Linked DNA regions of Homo sapiens: all the other regions are reported to be linked to region 2. Evidence: microRNA targets listed by miRTarBase, many of them from high-throughput screens and not tested one by one. Region 2 holds a microRNA gene; each other region holds the end of a gene's coding sequence.
Evidence for each region. The annotated mature microRNA hsa-miR-197-3p reads UUCACCACCUUCUCCACCCAGC and lies in region 2 at 2,078-2,099, shown strand. An mRNA with a match to its seed (bases 2 to 7 or 8) in the 3' UTR can be bound and repressed. Matches are read on the target gene's strand: a 7mer-m8 pairs with bases 2 to 8, a 7mer-A1 pairs with bases 2 to 7 and ends in A, and an 8mer does both.

Region 1: miRTarBase lists MSRB3 as a target of hsa-miR-197-3p. Seed matches in the 3' UTR shown: 7mer-A1 at 1,653-1,659.
Region 3: the mRNA of RNFT2 is a reported target of hsa-miR-197-3p. The part of its 3' UTR that is shown has no 7-base or 8-base seed match.

Annotation. Positions count from the first base shown.
Region 1 is chr12:65,462,511-65,465,748 of GRCh38, reverse strand. It overlaps MSRB3 (methionine sulfoxide reductase B3), which reads right to left. Exons shown (of 7, transcript NM_001031679.3): 7 at 1-2,594. The coding sequence ends at 2,427. Among named protein-coding and RNA genes, the nearest start is that of LINC02454, 140 kb to the left of the region's middle.
Region 2 is chr1:109,596,863-109,600,118 of GRCh38, forward strand. It overlaps MIR197 (microRNA 197), which reads left to right and starts at 2,031; the gene lies at 2,031-2,105. GNAI3 (G protein subunit alpha i3) reads left to right here. Exons shown (of 9, transcript NM_006496.4): 9 at 1-3,256.
Region 3 is chr12:116,848,705-116,851,960 of GRCh38, reverse strand. It overlaps RNFT2 (ring finger protein, transmembrane 2), which reads right to left. Exons shown (of 11, transcript NM_001382266.1): 11 at 1-2,647. The coding sequence ends at 2,513. Among named protein-coding and RNA genes, the nearest start is that of HRK, 31 kb to the left of the region's middle.

The DNA of each region.
Region 1 (3,238 bases), not on the chromosome of region 2:
AGAGAGACGTGAAGCCTACGAATTCCAGAGTGAACCCAGGGCCTGGGGTGAAATGTCTTGGAACCTGAGGGAACATCTGGATGCTCAGATAGAAACCTCTTATCTGAGCATCCAGATAAGACCAGAGCTCATCTGGAATCAAGTGTACATGACTATAAAGAGTCCACCGGGATGTCAGGCTTCTTAGAGAGGTGCTTGTAGAGAGAGACATGTAGGAATGTGGACATGGCCACACTGACGCTGTTTGTCACAGATTTTCATTCTAATTTCTTGTTGTTTCTTTAAAATTGTCAAATGTCCCTCTTTCTTTTTTTTCTCTTAGTGCTTACAAGGAAAGCTGTCAGTCTTCATAAACTTTCAAAGAGTTACAAAAATACGTATTTTTTAAACTACAATTCAAGATTAGCATCCAAACCTACAAACATGATGTACATTCGTCACACACCATACAACCTTCACACCTGGCTACAGCAATGTTGACTTACATCACCATTGTTTATACTTGTGAAAACTTTATTGTGCACAGTGACATCCATTCCGCCAGACTTAATGTTATAAAGCAGCTGAGCAGAGCTTCTCAAAGTAAAACTAGCCGTGTTGCTACAAAGGGAAATTCTGGCTCTTGGCCCAACTGTTTCCATACCAATCAGCTAAGTCAGCCTCCTCTCTGCTTCTTTCCATTTCAAATGCCTGGGCTTTGGCCTTTGAGGCAATTAGAACCAGATCAGTTTAATTTTACAACACTGATCTCAACTGTATAGCAATATAGTGAATTTGCCCTGAGAGTATCAATACATTTTACAAATATTATGAGTCCCAGTTTATGCATGAAGAAATAGGCACAGAGAGGCTACATGGCTTGTCCTTTGTCACACAGAAGATTATGTTGAGTATGAAACTTGAGCTTCCGTTTTAGCTTTCCATGTGAATGCCCATGTCTCTCCAGAGGTCACCTGGAGCTCTGTGCACAAGGGCCACCCCACTTGGATTCTGTTTGTTACTTGTACTGCCCTGTCAGTTTTTCTGCCCAGCACTGAATTTTTCAGTACCCAAGACTTCATCCTTGATCTTCTCTGCTCTCTCTCATTCCTGCTGCCTTGATGAAGTGTGTTGCCCCTAATATTTTATTTTACACAGTGGAATTTGTGCCCTTCCAGCTGCAGCTGCTTTTAGGTGTGGAGAGAAGGACTTATAAAAAGGCGATGGACAGGCGTTCTTCTTTTTGAATTTTAGACCAAGTGGGGCTCAATATTTTACAGTTGTCTTACATTTGAATGCTGCTTTCTTTTTCTTTTCTTTTTTGACAGGATCTCACTCTGTTCAGGCTGGAGTGCAGTGGTATGAGCTCAGCTCACTGCAACCTCCGCCTCCCAAGTTCAAGCGATTCTCCTGACTGAGCCTCAGGAGTAGCTGGGACTACATGCATGCGCCACCATGCCCAGCTAGTTCTTATATTGTTATTATTATTATTTTTTGAGATGGAGTGTCACATTGTCATGTAGGCTGGAGTGCAGTGGCATGATCTCGGCTAACTGCAAGCTCCGCCTTCCGGGTTCACGCCATTCTCCTGCCTCAGCCTCCTGAGTAGCTGGGACTACAGGTGCCCACCACCACGCCTGGCTAATTTTTCGTATTTTTAGTAGAGACGGGGTTTCACCATGTTAGCCAGGATGGTCTCCATCTCCTGACCTCGTGATCCACCCGCCTTGGCCTCCCAAAGTGCTGGGATCACAGGCGTGAGCCATTGCACTGGGCCTCCAATGCTTTCGATGGAAAATAAAATAAAATAAAGGCCTAACAGTGTGGTAATGTTTACTTCTCTGCCACAACACTCAGTATGCCCCTTTGGATCTGGCAACAATTTAACATAAGGAAAGACTTTAGACCTTCACACCCTTTCAGTGAGAAAAAAAAAAATGACCTTAGCTCAAACTTTCCACAAAGCTGAACAGTCTCATTAAAACATCACTCCAACCTTATCTTAGGTGGGTCTGTGCAAAGGCCTCAAGGCCATGTGTCTTGCAGGTCTCCATGCCCTGCACTGCCCAGCTCTGGTCTCTACACTGCAGAGGAGATCTCTATTTTCATGTTTGAAGACCATGAACCCTCTGCTTCTGAATCAAAGGGGGAAAAACTGCAAAAGAAGCCATGTGCTCAAAGAAAAGAATGCCAAAGGGTATAAGTGGCTTGTGAAGAAGTTTCACAAAGCTGTCTCCATTTGCTAAAGCTATAAACAGTTCTTGATCTAGTCAATTGCAAAATACATGGATGGCCAGGGCTTCTGTTTAAGCAAAAGAAGAAAAAATATCAATAGCACAAAACTGCCCTTATAGTTTTTGAAAAAATATATCTATTAAGATAACAATTTTGATTTTTTTAATAAGCTGTGCATTAAGTACACTTTGTTTCCATCACTCTCCATTACTCTAGAGCTCCGCTTTGTCTGCCTGGGCCGGGCTGGCGACCCCACTGCCTCCCTCGGCGGTGCCACTGCTATCCGCAGGTGTAAAAGACAAGGCAGCCGAATTTATGCAGTATCTTTTCCCAGTTGGACGAGGCCCATCATCAAAAATGTGCCCAAGGTGAGCACCACACTGAAAGAGAAGAACAAAACGTCAGGGAAAAGCATGTACAAAGCAGGCTTTGAGAGGAATTCACATTAAGCAGTTTAAATGGATGACCAGCCTGTAGAGAAATGAAGGAAACCATCGTGGATGATTTCTAATCCGCCTGTCAATAGCCGCAAAGATGGTTTCTGGCAGGCTTTGCGCCACATGCTGAGAACAAAAAACACTAGAATTGTGCATATCAGAAATCATTTAGGAGCCACGTATTTTTTGATCTGTGAAGTCTCTCAGCCAGCTGAAAAATGACTGCAGTAATTTTATGAATCAAGTTGACCCTTGATCTTCCCTTGTAAGAAACATGGCAGCATAAAATCTTTCCCCCGGCATTACTTTTGGCTTTGGATGGGTGGGTTTCAGATATGCAGAAGTCCACTGAAAAGATACTGTTTAACTGGCCATGACAGAGGTGATGTTTGCTTTCATGGGCAGTAAAACTTAACATCAGACAAGTATTGGATGTTCTTGGAACCCAGCGAAGCAATGGCAAGGCTCAATAGATTTATGTCACAGTCACCAGGGCTGCAAATGTAGCAAAAGGAAACATCTCTAGCACACACAATTGTTTTTTTCCTGGCTTCCAACAAGTAGTGTCATGCTGGCTTCTTTATCCA
Region 2 (3,256 bases):
AGGTGATTTTGATGTAGCCAATCTGGGCCAACATTTGGGGACAACTGAGTAGGACCTAATACAGGTTGAATAGCCCTTATCCAAATCTCTTGGGACCAGAAGTGTTTGAGAGTTCAGATTTTTGTGAGGTTTTGAAATATTTGCATTATATACTTATTGGTTCGGGATTCCAAATCCAAAAATCTGAAATCCAAAATGCCCCAGTGTGTGCTTCCTTTGAGTGTTATGTTGTTACCCAAAAAGCTTTTGATTTTGGAGCATTTTAGATTTTGGATTTTCAGATTTGAAATGCTCAATCTATATTAAAGATCAACACAGGCTGAGCACAGTGGCTCATGTCTGTAATCCCAGCACTTTGGGAGGCCGAGGTAAGCAGATCACTTGAGGTCAGGAGTTTGAGACCAGCTTGGCCAACATGGTGAAACCCCGTCTTTACTAAAAATACAAAAATTAGCCAGGCATGGTGGTGGATGCCTGTAATCCTAGCTACTCGGGAGGCTGAGGCAGGAGAATCGCTTGAACCTGGGAGGCAGAGGTTGCAGTGAGCCGAGATCGCACCACTGAATTCCAGCCTGGGCGACAGAGTGAGTCTGTTTTTTTTTTGTTTTTTTTTAAAGTCAACACAAATATTGAAAATAAGCAACTTCAGTGCACAAATAAGCTCAAAATCACTAGTGAGTGATCTATTTTTTGCCAATAAGAAGTACCATTTGTACATGACTTAAAGTGCCTTCCACCAAGAAAATTATTGAAAACTGTTGGGTCACATAACATTCCTACACTTTGGATACAGAGTATTTAGTTTTATACAAAATTAAGACAACAAGAAACCTAGGATGTCCAAACATTCATTTCATTTATTTTACTGCATTTATTTATGCAGTGAAAATTGAAAGATACACCAAATTAAAGATAAAACCCTGTGACAGATAACAGTATATGTAATAACATGAATATTTATTTACACTTGGTAGAGAAAGCAAAGCTAGCTAGCTCTAAACTAGAATGAAAGTCGTTTTGAAATGGGTACGGGGGTATATAAGGGGAATGATTGAGTCACATGTAAAAGCCTTTGTATGCCCAGTGCTAGTGTTTTCCTGAAATCTAGTGAGAATCACAAGGTACCAGAAATAATCAAATAATAAATATTAATACACTGCTGGGATAGAAGTATCTCAGTGTACCAGCATTCACTAAGCTATAAAATCTGTGACAGCAGGAATATTAAATTATGAACAACCTGGTTTATCTGTCTCCTCTTATCTTTTACCTCTCCCTACGCCCAAAATTCTCCTTAGGTTATCCAGACATTTTTACTAAGATGCTTATTTATATGTAAGAGAGATTTCCAGTAGATACAACAAAACACAAGAAATCACCTGTTCTGTTTATTCTTGCTCATGTAGGATAAAGGTCCTGAGACCTCTCAGAATCTTACGAGGTTGGAGAGTTGTTTGGAATGCTGGGTTCTGGTCTTGTCTCTGCTTCCAACCAGCTATGGAATCTTGTGTATTCTTTCAGTCTTAAATCACTCATCTGTTATCTAAAGATGGACTAAATTATTCCTTCCTGCTGTGATATTCTGTGGTTCTCATCAGATAGAAATAACATATTTGAAAATGCTTTGTAAATGTTATGATACTCAGGATTATACTGCACAGAAAAAAAAAAATCCTAAGGCAGCACCAACAAAGGTATTCAACGTAGTGGGTGGTCTTTTACAGCATTACTTTGCCCATATTCATTTTGAAGACCTGAAATGAAGTTGAACTATAAATTGCTCTAAAATTCGTGAAGCAGGGTGAAAAGGTCTTTGCTTTGTTTTACATTTAAATCCAGCTGTCTATTTTCTGCTTATACTAGTGCTTTTTCATGGCAAAAAGACAGAAAAGTTCCCTTCTGCAGTCTCCAGTGTCTTCTGACCTCACAGAAATGTTTTCATGCTTTTACCTAGCAGGACCACCAGAGGCTCTGTCACACTTGCAGTCCCTGGCCCAACACCGAAATCCTTCTGGAATCTGTGCTCTGGGGGCTGTGCCGGGTAGAGAGGGCAGTGGGAGGTAAGAGCTCTTCACCCTTCACCACCTTCTCCACCCAGCATGGCCGGCACACTTTGGTCTACGGCACATCTCCAAGTATAGAGTGGGTTTTGAATGCTGTTATGTCTCACCGTGGGGATGGGAAGGAATACTCTGTTTTGGACTATTTGGAGGTACATGTGAGTGGATTTTATTACCAGAGTAGGAACTGTTTCAAGTTAATGTGTCTTTTATGTTGCTTTTAAGACAACTTTTGTGCCGCTTTTATCCATTCTTCCTTTTATCCACAGAAATACAAATTTCTAATTATAGTATATTTTTTCTATTTTTAAAATTGTGATAAAGCATATATAACAAAATTTGCCATCTTAAGTGTACAGTTCAGTGGCATTAAGTACATTCACACTGTTGCACAGCCATCACCACCATCCATTTCCAGAACTTGTTTTCATCTTCCTGAACTGAAACTCTGTACCTGTTAAACAGTAACTCCCCATGCCCCACCTTCTTTCAGCCCCTGGTAACCAGCATTTTCCTTTGTCTCTATGAATTTGACTATTTTAGATACCTCATATAAGTGGAATCATAGTATTTGTCCTTTTGTGTCAATCATATTGTATTTTTGTCTAAAAAAGGAAAACTATCAGATTTATGTGAAATGTAACGTAATTTACATTTGATTTACTGTTAGTAATGTCTCTTTAATCATGCTATGCTAGGGAAGTACATTATGGTCTCTCCCTCTAAGAATATGAAGAGGAAATTTTACCTTCAACAAACAAGCAAACTTAGTTATATTTTTGTGATTTTATGCTGTTTTCATATTCTATTTTGAGATCTATTTGTCTTAGCTTGGAGGTGGTTTTGTTAAATGTCCACGATTTAGAGACGGCATAATGAAAAAATGACCAAGAATTTGGTTGGGAATGGGAGGAGCTTAGAAGAACAAGAAATTGGCTTTGATTTTATAGTGTATGGTGCTCTGTTGGTAGCTGGACATCATCACAGGCTTTGGATTGAGAAGACCTGTTCTGGAGTTCTAGTTCTGCTACTGCCTAGCGTTGTGATCTTGATGAAGATACTCTTCCTTCCTGGGCTTCAGTTTTTGATCTATAAATTGCTAGTGATGGGGCTGGACTATTTTTAAGTTTGTTCTAACTTTAGCAGTCTTAAGAATTAAGGTTGCATGCCAGAAAATAGGGTTAAATATTTGTTTC
Region 3 (3,256 bases), not on the chromosome of region 2:
CTGTTTGCTCTGAAGGCTACCAGAGGGGATGGCAATGTCCACAGGAGCTGCTGACAGGCCTGAGACTTAAGTGAGGGAGATGACAGAATAGGAAGAGGAGAAAGACATAAAGACAGGAGACCAAGGGGTAACCACATCTGGGCCAAAGCTGACCTTTCTTTCTTTCCTTCCTTCCTTCCTTCCTCCCTCCCTCCCTTCTTTCTTTCTTTTTTTTTTTAGACAGAGTCTCACTCACTCTGTCACCCAGGTTGGAGTGCTGTGGTGCAATCTCGGCTCACTGCAACTTTCACCTCCCGAGTTCAAGCAGTTCTCCCTGCCTTAGCCTCCTGAGTAGCTGGGATTACAGGCACCCGCCACCGCGCCCGGCTAATTTTTGTATTTTTTAGTAAAGAGGGGGTTTTGCCATGTTGGCCAGGCTAGTCTTGAACTCTTGACCTCAGGTGACCCGCCTGCTTCAGCCTCCCAAAATGCTGGCACTACAGGCATGGGCCACCACACCCGGCCTCTCGTGTGCTTTTAGAAGACCGTGTCTGCTGGGCCCCATGCCTGGAATGTCTGAGGGGCAGAGCAGTGCGGAGGTTAAGAGTGCGGGCTCTGCTGGGGATAGCGGAGTGTGCCTGTAGTTGCAGCTGCTTGGGAGGCTGAGGAGGGAGGATCACTTGAGCCCAGGAGTTTGAATCTAGCCTGGACAACCTGGATTTTTATTAGAAACCTCATCTCTAATAAATTTATTTTTTTTTAGATGTGGGTTCTGAAACTGTACCAGGCCTCTGTTGGAAACTTGGCCCGCCCATGCTGGCTGGGTGACCCTGGGAAAGTTACCGCACCAAGCTCTGTGCCCAAGTTTCCTCATCTATAAAACAGGGGACCCAACAGTACCTCCCCCATCACAGGGCTGTTGTGAGGATGACAGCACGTAATCCAAGCAGGATGCTGCATGCTTTGCCTGCTGCGCATGAAGTATTTGGGACCTTAAGTCATTACAGGTATATGGTGGGGCCCAACAACTGTATTTTGAAAATACTTTGGGCCAGGTGTGGTGGCTCATGCCTGTAATCCCAGCACTCTGGGAGGCTGAGGCAGGTGGATCACTTGAGGTCAGGAGTTTGAGGCCAGCCTGGCCAACGTGGTGAAACCCCATCTCTACTAAAAATACAAAAAAAAAATTAGCTGGGCATGGTGGCACGCATCTGTTGTCCCAACTACTCGGGAGGCTGAGGCAGGAGAATCACTTGAACCCGGGAGGCGGAGGTTGCAGTGAGCCAAGATCGTGCTATTGCACTCCAGCCTGGGCAACAGAGCAAGACTCTGTCTCACAACAACAAAAAAAAAAAAAAAAAGAAAAGAAAAGAAAAAATACTTCACAGGGCTCACAGGGATTCTAATCTGCAGGCCTGGGCTATCTGGGAGGCAGTGATCTCTAGGCTCCTCCCCAGCCTGCACCATCAAGTCCTAGGTACTAGGTACTAAGTTAAAATAACCAGCAGGTGGGCTGGGCACAGGGGCTCATACCTGTAATTCCAGCACTCAGCACTTTGCGAGGCCAGGACAGGAGGATTGCTTGAGCCCAGGAGTTTGAGAACACCCTGGACAACATAATAAGTCCTCGCCTCTACTAAAAATTAAAAAAAAAAAAAAATTAGCCAGGCCTGGTGGCACACACCTGTAGTCCCAGCTACTTGGGAGGCTGAGGCGGGAGGATGGCTTGGGCCCAGGAGTTCAAGGTTGCAGTGAGCTGTGATTGTGCCAACTGCACTCCAGCCTGGGTGAAGACCCAGACCCTGTCTCAAAAAAAAAAAAAAAAAAAAAAAAGTGAGCCTGGGCACGGTGGCTCATGCCTGTAATCCCAGCACTTCGTGAGGCTGAGGCGAGCTGATCATTTGAGGTCAAGAGTTGGAGACCAGCCTGGCCAACATGGCAAAACCCTGTCTCTACTAAAAAATACAAAAATTAGCCAAGTGTGTTGGTGGGTGCCTGTAATCCCAGCTACTCGGGAGGCTGAGGCAGGAGAATCGCTTGAACCCAGGAGGTGGAGGTTGCAGCGAGCCGAGATTGTGCCACTGCACTCCAGCCTGGGTGATAGAGCGAGACCTTGTTTTAAAAAAAAAAAAAAAAGGAAGGAAGGAAGGAAGGAGGGAGGGAGGGAAACAGAGAGAGAGAGAAAGAAAAGAAAAGAAAAAAGAAAGAGAAAATAACCAACAAGTGGGAACTTCATGTATTGCCAGGTCCTTGACTTGGAGTGGAGAAGGAAGATGCATCTAGAAGGGCATCAAGTCTGAGTTAGGAAGACGTCCCCTTTTGCAGGGGAAGGAGGCACGCACTATACCACAGAACGAGAGAGGAAGATGAAGGTCAGAAGGACAAGACAGGGGCGGGACTTTGGGGTCAGAGGTGGTGGAGGGCAAGAGGCAGGATGTAAGTGCTTGAGGCCTGTTTCTCAGGAAGCCCCCGCAGGGCTGGGTCCGGGCATGCTGACCCTTGGCGTCCTTCTGGGTGTCCTCAGTGTTCGGTCCTAGTACACCTGGAAGTGTGCGGACGTGGCGCCGTCCTTCCAGCAGCGCAGGGTGTCCACGGCGACCGAGCGGCAGAGCGGGCAGGTGCGCTCACGGTCCAGCCACAGGCAGAGGCACTCCTCACAGAACACGTGCTGCGGGGACAGCAATCAGCAGGCACCAGGACTCTTTACTGAGCGTCTGCCTCGGTCTCGGGAGCAGGAGAAGGGGCAGCGGACTAGACAGACAACCCCTGCCTTCGGGGCGCCTGCACTCGCGTTGGGGAGACAATGCGACTCCAAAATACTGAGTTATCAGTAGGAAGCACCAAGATGAAACAGCAGGGGAGGGGACAGGTGTGGTGGCTCAGGACTGTAATCCCAGCACTTTGGGAGGCCGAGATGGGCGGATCACCTGAGGCAGGAGTTTGAGACCACCCTGGCCAACATGGTGAAAACCAGTCTCTACTAAAAAATACAAAAATTAGCCGGGCGTGGTGGTGGGCGCCTGTAGTCCCAGCTACTCGGGAGGCTGAGGCAAGAGAATCGTTTGAACCCGGAGGCAGAGGTTGCAGTGAGCTGAGTTTGTGCCACTGCACTCCAGCCTAGGTGACAGAGCAAGAATCTGTCTAAAAACAAAAAAACAAAAAACAAACAAACAAAAAGCAGGAGGGAGAAGGAACAGGGAGGGCTTGGGCGGGTTGGGACGTTAAGGACAACTTTACGGAGATACTGACATTTGGGTAAAACTTGCAGGACAGTGAG